Regions from separate parts of the Homo sapiens genome. Here region 1 is linked to region 2. Evidence: fine-mapped expression QTL. A gene starts in region 2. The other region holds a variant in brackets. All regions are shown on one strand. Distances are from middle to middle. Region 1 overlaps CSNK2A1 (casein kinase 2 alpha 1). Region 2 holds the start of CSNK2A1 (casein kinase 2 alpha 1).

Region 1 (4,394 bases), 63 kb after region 2:
TCTTACTGATCTAACCCTAAATCCAACTCATTTATACTTTTATTTTTAGTTCAGTTTAAAATGTTGATACCTTCCCTCCCAGGCTCCTTACCTTGGTCTTTTCCCTGTTCATCTCCCAACATGCTGTGCTCCATAGCTGGTAGGAGAGGGAAGGCAAAATCTTTCTTAGTTTTCTTTGTCTTGGCCATTTTGAATTCATTTAGTTACTGGGCATAACTTACTGCTTTTTACAAAAGAAACAAACATTGTCTGTACAGGTTTCATGCTAGAGCTAATGGGAGATGTGGCCACACTGACTTCCATTTTAAGCTTTCTACCTTCTTTTCCTCCGACCGTCCCCTTCCCTCACATGCCATCCAGTGAGAAGACCTGCTCCTCAGTCTTGTAAATGTATCTTGAGAGGTAGGAGCAGAGCCACTATCTCCATTGAAGCTGAAATGGTAGACCTGTAATTGTGGGAAAACTATAAACTCTCTTGTTACAGCCCCGCCACCCCTTGCTGTGTGTATATATATAATACTTTGTCCTTCATATGTGAAAGATCCAGTGTTGGAATTCTTTGGTGTAAATAAACGTTTGGTTTTATTTATCAAGGTTAGATTTAAGTTCCCTGTGTAAAGGTCTTGCTGGGTGGGTGTCTCATGTTCACATCTGAGGGGCCTGCAGCCCTGTACCGTGGAGGCTTCCCAAGGCCCCCATTTTATACACCCCTCGTTCGACCCATGGTACCGGGCAGAGCAGAGAGGCCTTAAAAAAAAAGCACCACAAGCCAAAGCGTCTCTGGGGATTAAGGATCCTTTGCCATAAAACTCATTTTGTGTCTCAGCAGTGCAGGGATTGGGGATGGAAAAAGTCGCCAGTTTTTGTGTGTTTGTGTGTGTGTGTAAAGTGGACTTTCCACTGTAATCCAACCACCTAAGTTTATCAGGTGCTTCACTGAGGAAGCCTAGTTTTTTAAGCACAATAGCAAAACCATCAGCTCTGTATTTTCTCCTGTTATTTCATTACAGTAGCTGCTTGTGGGAACTAGGAAAAATTCTTCCAACATATTTTAAGGCCTAAAATCTTAGTTCCCCATTCTCCTACCTTATAGATTCACAGGCCTTTCTCGCCTAGGCATCATAGATAAACGTAATTGTTTGGGGAGTTGAATTTAATGAACTTATCTAACTTTGTAACCCATCTTGGCTTTAGTAACTTTATCAAGGTGGTGGCTTTAGTGAATATAATGGTAAACTTTAGAGGACGCTAAAGCCTCCTTTTATAGCGCTTCTCAACGGTAGGGAGAGCTGAAGGGAAAACATTCTGACTGTGTGGCAGGGTGATTTTCTTCCTTATGACCACTTACAGTGGATATTTATTGTACTTGACCCTTTTATGCCCTAGAATGCTGTGAGGGTTACCATGTTGAATTTGTGCAGAAGCTAAAAGCACCAGATGTGCCAGAGATGCAATTTGTGATTATGTTTGCACTGGATTGTGATTTGAACAGGACACTTATAACTAATGAGTTCTTTCTTTTGAGGTGGGGAGAGGGTTGTAAATCAAGACTTCATACCCTATCCTTGTAGCTCGGAAATTGAGGTGTAGCTTAGGCTGATGCGGAGAGCTGCAGACAGCTGGACCTCCTTACACCCATCAGACCTTGGAATAAACCGAAGGTGAATGCAGAGGACTCTGAGGTGCCACCCAAGAGCCTTTTAAAATAAATAGAAGTTTTTAAAAATGCTACTTAAGAGTCACTGCAGAAGCATGGAGAGAGAGAAAAAAAAAAAAGACCCAATTGGGTGGGGGGTGGGGGGGAGGCAAGGGTTTACAGAGTAACAACTTACGTGTTGTTGTAAATTACCTCATCTGTATACCTTGTATTGGGAC[A/G]CTATTTCTCAGCACTACCTGTGTCTGCATTGCTTAGATGGCAGGAAATGGAATGGCCAACATGAAAGGTTATGTTGGCAATTACTCTGAAAGATTTTTTAAAGTATTTTTAAACTTTGTTTGAAGTGGTCCCTCCCCTCTTCCTCTGCTTTTTTTTAAGTTTGAAGCCAGAAGGCCCTCCCCACCTTGCTTTATTGGTTGTAATTGTATTGTAATTGGTATGACTAAACCATAACTGTGCTGGGAAGAAGTTGTGCCATGAAGGTCTTTAATTTTTTTTAATAAAAACATTTAAATAAATGAAATGTCCCTGCAGCCTGAGCAATATGCTTCTCCAACCGACACCGTGTGTGATAGATGGCTCCGTTTTCACGTTTTGAATTCTGTTTCTTGTACTTGAAATGCCTGTCCAGCTTACATAAGATAGATTAAATTGTTAGAGTGGGACTGTCAGAGGAATATATCTTGTAAAGTAGATCCTCAGGGTATGGCTAATTACTATAGTCCTAAAGTAGCAGAGAAAATTAGAGATTGGTTGACAGATTTGGGAATTTTAATTTCTTCTTAGTTTTTAACTTTCATCTTTGCTTCACCTTTTGACAAGTATGGTTATAATTAGAATTGACCATTTAAGCATCTCTTGAAAAACCTGATTTTGTCCCACCAGCAAATTCTCTCCCAAGACTGGAATTGGGTTTGCATAGTAGAGAGCCTGTCTTCCCAGGGCCTTTTCCTAGTTAAAGAAACACTTAACTAAAAAGGCTGTGTGGTAAGGTCATGCTCAGTTCCTTCCTCAAAAAATGAGTCTAAAATTGGTTTATCCTGAATCCGACTTCCCCCACTGTCATCACTTACCCTTGCCCTTCTTTTTCCTCAGAACACCTGAACTTTTGTTGTATTATTTTGTATCTCCCCACTTGCATGTAAACTCCCTGGTGACCTTGCATGTCTTATGCAATCCTCATTAAAACCTTTTGTTTTTTTTTTTAAGTGGGTTCGTTTTCCCTCAGGATCGAAGAGTATTGAATGGAATGGCACGAGGAAAATATTTAACACCCTACTTGGCTTGTAATAATAGGTGCTTAATAAATTGTAGTTCCACTCTCCACTCCATTGCCCCCTTTCTCTCCCTACACACACACACCCACCCACCCACACACACACACACACACACACAAAGTAAATGGAAGTATTGTTGCATAAAGAGCATCTCAAAATCCTAAGAACTTTGCCCTTGAGTTTGCAGCTATAATTACAAGCCACAGGCCAGACTGAACTAACATGACAAGTAACTTTATTTAATGAGACCCTGATAAATAGGTATCTGAAGACTAAGGAATGATCCTGGCCAATTTAGTAGACTTAGATGCTGCAGTCTCCCTGCTTTTCCCCTGCTGTATTACCTGTGTGTAATATAGGTTGAATATCCCCTATCCAAAATGGTTGGGACCAGAAGTGTTTTGAATTTTTTTGGATTTTTGGAATATTTGCGGAATACATACCAGTTCAATATTCCTAATCTGAAATTTGAAATATTCCAAATAGCATTTACTTTAGGCATCATGTTGATGCTTAAAAAATTTCAGATTTTTGAGGATTTTGTATTTTCAAATTAGAAATGCTCAACGTGTAATACGAAATTCAGACTATTCTCCAAGTAAAACATATGTAGATGGTGTCACAAGATGTTCTGGACTCAATCCTATGTAAATAAGTACTTCCTAGACTTTATAGCTCTCCTTTGATTCTGTGCTAAATTTAACCATTAGAGAAGCAATGTAATGTTACTGCAAGTGGTCTACCTCTAACAGAGTTCTGTCTGGCAGTGTGATTTTTTTGATCAGTTAACCTCTCTGAATCTTTTCTTCACAGGTGATTTAAATTGTTATTGTAAAACATTTTAGGCATGTACCAAATTATAAAGAAAGCTGTAACACATCCATAATCCTACCACCCAAGTTGAATTTCCATTGCCAATACAGACCAAGCCCCCTTTTTGCCCTTTTTTGGTGATACCCTCTTCTTCCTCCCTTCCCCAGAGGTCCCAATATTTCCTATCTGTTAAATTGGGGTATAAGTACTGATTTCATAGAGCGGTTGTTCAGATTCTATGACAGATGCCTGGTATATGGTAGAGTTACACCAAATGTTGGTTTCTCTTCTAAATTGTACAGTTGTGCAGACTATGTACAGTAAAAGGATGCTACATTATAGGGAGGCCATAGATGTTTGCATTTGGAAAATTTCTGACTCTTTTCCAGCAGGTGGCAGTAAAGTGTCTTTACTAGAAGAAAAAATATCCAAGCATTAAACATGACAGGTTTTCAACGGGTACAAGTCAAGTTTCTGATTGAATGAAGGCCAGCATTGCCTTGTTCCCACTCCCTCTATGGAAAGCCAGATATTTTGCACTGTAGCAAATTACAAACTGGATTTGTCTCCCTGTCGCTCTACTCACTAGAAGTTTTTTGTTTGTTTTGTTTTTTGATACGGGTCTTGCTCTGTTACCCAGGCTAGAG
Region 2 (4,394 bases):
GGATGGGAAGCCTCTTGAGACCGGAGACCTACATGAGGCTGGCGTAGTAGACGGCAGGAGTTGGGTTTCAATTATGTCCTGCATGAGTATGAGGGTTGTATATGTGTGCCCAGGTGAGCCCTCTGAATGAAGTCATGGATAGAGGCCAGAACTAGGAAGAAGAATGAAGAACTAATGCTGTGAGAGAGGCTGAGATTGGAAAGGCATGAAGGCTAAGCAATGGGAAATATCCTCACTACACTCAGATGAAAACCCAGCTTCCTTATCATGACCTGAATGCCCTGCCCACCTCTCCCACCATATTTCTTCCTCTTCTTCCCTTTATTTGCAGTGCTTCAGCCACCATGGCCTCCTTCTTCAAACTTGTGATGCTCTTTCCTGCCTTGGGACGTTTGCACTTACTGTTTCCTTCTCAAAGGGACCTTCTGAACCACTCAAGCTAAAGCTCTATACTTCACAGCTACTTATCTTTTCCTTTCGTAGCACTTATTGCTACCTGAAATTACTTTGTTTATGCATTTGTTTACCTGTGCATTACTTGCTTCTCACTTTAGAAGGTAAGCTCCACCAGTGAGCAACTGGTGTATGTCTTCCTCATAACACATCCCCAGTACCTAGCACAGTGTCTGGCTCATAGCAAATGATGAATTGTTGTGAGTTAAACAAATGTGAATACAGTTGGGAAAAACAAAGCCACAAGAGCCAAAAAGATACGTTCGAGAGGTAGGTAGAAGGGTATCATTTCCTGGAAGATGGCTTCCCAGAAACTTTGGGATTATCTTGTATAACCTCCTCAGTCCACAAGTGGGGAAATTGAGGCCCAGTTACAGGACACTGAGAGAAAAACTGTTGTGGGTTCCCAGGCAATTGGGATCAGATGTCACAAGCTGTCTAGCAGATGAGGTCCAGAGAAGGCCACAGCCACCTCCCTGAGGCCATCACTATAAGTCTGCAGCCACCACCAGCCCTAACCCCACATGGGGAAGAGGTGCCTCTTTGGGAGCAGAGGTGCTAGTCAGCTGACAAACTGTGAAGGCAGGGCTGTGGAGGGTGGAGAGGCCCATTCCTGAGACAACCAGCTATTCTGAGACAGTTAGGGATAATGGTTGGTACTGAAAGAACCTGGCCTCCTCACCCTCGTTCCAGTGCTCACACCTCTGTCCCACCAGAGGTGAGACTAATACTTGAACTCCTTTCAGCAACTCTTAGACGCTTCAGCTTTTATCAGGGCCTGCAAAGGAGAGGTTGATCATCAGATGGAGCCCTGTCCACTGGGGGCTCCCAGTCTGATGGAGGAGACAGACTGAGGTCCTCAGGTTACTGACTGATAGTGTCTGGGTTGGAGGGAGTTAAACAGAGAGGAGACCCCTAGAGGAAAGGATCCCTGAATTAGTTCAATCGGCATACAGAAATTATCCAGTCCATGAGGTGACAGTAAGAGAAGTAACTGCCAGTGTAAAGGGAGGGAGGCAACACAGCTAAGTTCCAGGAATTGTTTGCAGTCTTGTGGGTGGAATCTTCCGGAATTTGAGAAGAGAGTGGCAGAATAGGAGGCTGGAAAGGAGGGTTTGGCCAAATTATGGAGGACTCTGAATGTCAAGTGAAGAGTTTGGGCTATCTTTGGTGCATAAAGAGGTCCATGGGAGATTTTTGACCATAGGGAGACCATGATGAGCTCTGCATGGTAGAAAGTGCTTTGTGGCTGTTTTGGGGAGGTAGCTCGGGCAAGGAGAGCAGGGGTGGGAGGCAGATAGAAGGAAAAAAAAACACTGTATTTTGGACGCACAGCTCTTGGCAGGACTCCTGTAGGAGGAAGGAATTGGGCCTTGGTCTCTTGAGAGCTAGTATCCTCACTTCTCAGACTCCTGCGCCATGCCCTTCCTAGGGTCCAACTTTCATTCACTTCTTCCGAACTCCAAGTTTGAATAGAAAGTGTTGCTGAAACCCTAATTTAAAACGAGGGGTCAGAGCAAAAGAGACTTCAGCTCCCAGAATGCTTGGCTCTACAGCTCTGCAGGTCGCGCATGGTTCTTTTCAAGAAAGGGGGGCCAGCTGGGTGAAGTGTGGGAAACCTGGGTACCGCCATCTTAACTTGGGTCAAACCAACTGTTCACCTAATGGGAGGTTCGTGTTCTCTCTGTTGTCACTTGTTAACACTATTGAAATAAAATGCGCTTAACTATTGCAAGTCTCCTTATTCTGCTTTGCGTTGGGGATTCCTTCCATTTTGCACCCTAGGCCAGAACTGAATCCCTAAGGTTACAATAGGACATCCCAGCATGGCCGCATTCAGAGAGATTCCTCTGGGGGCGGAGTCGGAAGCTGTCTCGCCCCGCCTCCTGGTAGGAGGGGGTTTCCGCTTCCGGCAGCAGCGGCTGCAGCCTCGCTCTGGTCCCTGCGGCTGGCGGCCGAGCCGTGTGTCTCCTCCTCCATCGCCGCCATATTGTCTGTGTGAGCAGAGGGGAGAGCGGCCGCCGCCGCTGCCGCTTCCACCACAGGTACCTAGGGAGCAGCCAGGCGAGGTCGTTGGCGGGTGGGGTGGGCCCAGGATAGGGCAGCGGAGCGCGGCCGACCCTCACGCTTCCAGCAGACTCCTGAGCGGCCCGTCGCCTTCCCCTGCCCCCACCTTCACACATAAACCAAGCGAGGCCCCTGCAGCCCATCGGGGAGGCCCAGGGGCCACCCCTCAGGGCGGAGGGCGAGGTTTGGGGGCAGAGGCCGATGTGAGGGTGGGAACCGGCTGCCGGAGTCCAGCTTATTGCAGAGGAGAGGACTGAACTGGGTGGGGACTAGGGGACAACTTGGAGGAGGGGGTCGTCAGAGGGGGAAGGGAACTTGAGGGGTGGGGCCGCAGGGGGGTGCTGGGGGAGGGTGCGGAGGGAGTGGTGCCTGCTGGGTAGTGTGCAGTGAACCCTCCCGCGAAACTGGGCAGCTGGAGTAGGGGCCTTCTTAGGGTCCCTCTGGGCGGGGCTGAGCTTCCCACCTGCAGAGTGGGTGCGAGGTGGAGAGAACCCCAGGCGGGGTTGCTGGGGCGAAAGGGGGAAGGGACCAAGACGTGGGGCAGAACGTCTGGAGTTGGAGTTAAGGACTAGTTAGGAGCCTGGATAGAAAAAGAGGTATGGAGAGAAAGCTTGGCTAAGGGTATACATATGTTGGTGACCTTTTGAAAGAGTAGGACTTTTCAATTTTGTTTTTCGTTGTGTGTTTTTTGCAGTGTTGGAACATTGCTAGATTAAGCAGGTGATGGGTGGAGCTTCTGTAGTTTGTTTTGGGGAAGCAGAGTCAGGGTCAGGAGAAGTTGCATCTTGGCTATTGCTTTGTGTGGAGGAAAGAGTTTTGAAAAGAAGGTGGCAAATTATTTGGGAAGACTTGATTACTTTTCAGCTGTTTAATTCTACGAGAATGGGACATGGGGAGAGGAAATGAAAACTAAGAAGAGAGGCCGGGCGTGTGGCTCACGCCTGTAATCCCAGCACTCTGGGAGGCCGAGGCGGGTGGATCACGAGGTCAGGAGTTCGAGACCAGCCTGACCAACACGGTGAAACCCCGTCTGTACTAAAAATGCAAATATCAGCCGGGCTTGGTGGCGCGCGCCTGTAATCCCAGCTACTCGGGAGGCTAAGGCAGGAGAATCGCTTGAACCTGGGAGGCGGAGGTGGCAGTGAGCTGAGATCCGCCACTGCACTCCAGCCTGGGCGACAGAGCGAGACTCCGCCTCAAAAAGAAAAAAGAAAACTAAGAAGGGAAGATTTTTCCAAGAATTGGAGACTTCATTCCATCTGAGGAGTGCAGTGTAGGCCCAGTGGTTAAAAACCAGACTGCCTAGGTTCTCAAATATCAGGGCCATTGCTACTTAGCTGTGTGACCTAAACTCTCTAAGCCTCAGTTTTCCCGTCTGTAAAAGGGGGATGATGGTATTTTCTAGCTTGTGAGTTTACGGAGAAGAGTAAATAAGACAATTTGTGTCAAGTGCTTACTACAGTGTCTGGCAGGTAGTAAGTGTAGTAAGTAGCTTTTACCTGTCACTGTAAAGGGACTAGCTGGTATATTTGGGGCTCTTCTGTTCTAAGTAAAATTTATAGTCAAGAATTTGACTGTAGACAGGGCTTTAGAGTAGTATCTTTGTAGTTGTTGTAGGGTTTTGTTGTAAGTCATTTGGCTTTACTGGCTTGGTGGACCTGGGGCTGAAAGTCCAGTACCAATACTAGTTCTCCTCCGTGGTATTCTCAAAAGTTCACCTGCAGTCTTAGCAGGGCATGTTTTTGTCCTTCTGTGACTTTGAAATACTTGGCTTTGGTTTGCTATTGCGGGAGGGTGTATGACTTGAAGAAAGAATGCAAGATTGGAAATTTGCTTAGATTGATTAATCAACTGATTATACAGTTAGGTCCCCG

What was found.
Region 1: its variant is fine-mapped to the expression of CSNK2A1 in whole blood (TOPMed, PIP above 0.99).

What each region holds. Positions count from the first base shown.
Region 1 is chr20:478,893-483,286 of GRCh38, reverse strand. It overlaps CSNK2A1 (casein kinase 2 alpha 1), which reads left to right. Exons shown (of 14, transcript NM_177559.3): 14 at 1-4,394. Among named protein-coding and RNA genes, the nearest start is that of TBC1D20, 19 kb to the right of the region's middle. The variant A/G (reference allele first, on the strand shown) is at 1,876.
Region 2 is chr20:541,776-546,169 of GRCh38, reverse strand. CSNK2A1 (casein kinase 2 alpha 1) reads left to right here and starts at 2,380. Exons shown (of 14, transcript NM_177559.3): 1 at 2,380-2,498. RefSeq lists enhancers at 1,915-1,974, 2,085-2,134, 2,245-2,324, 2,345-2,494, 1,980-2,673 and 1 more and a silencer at 2,815-2,874.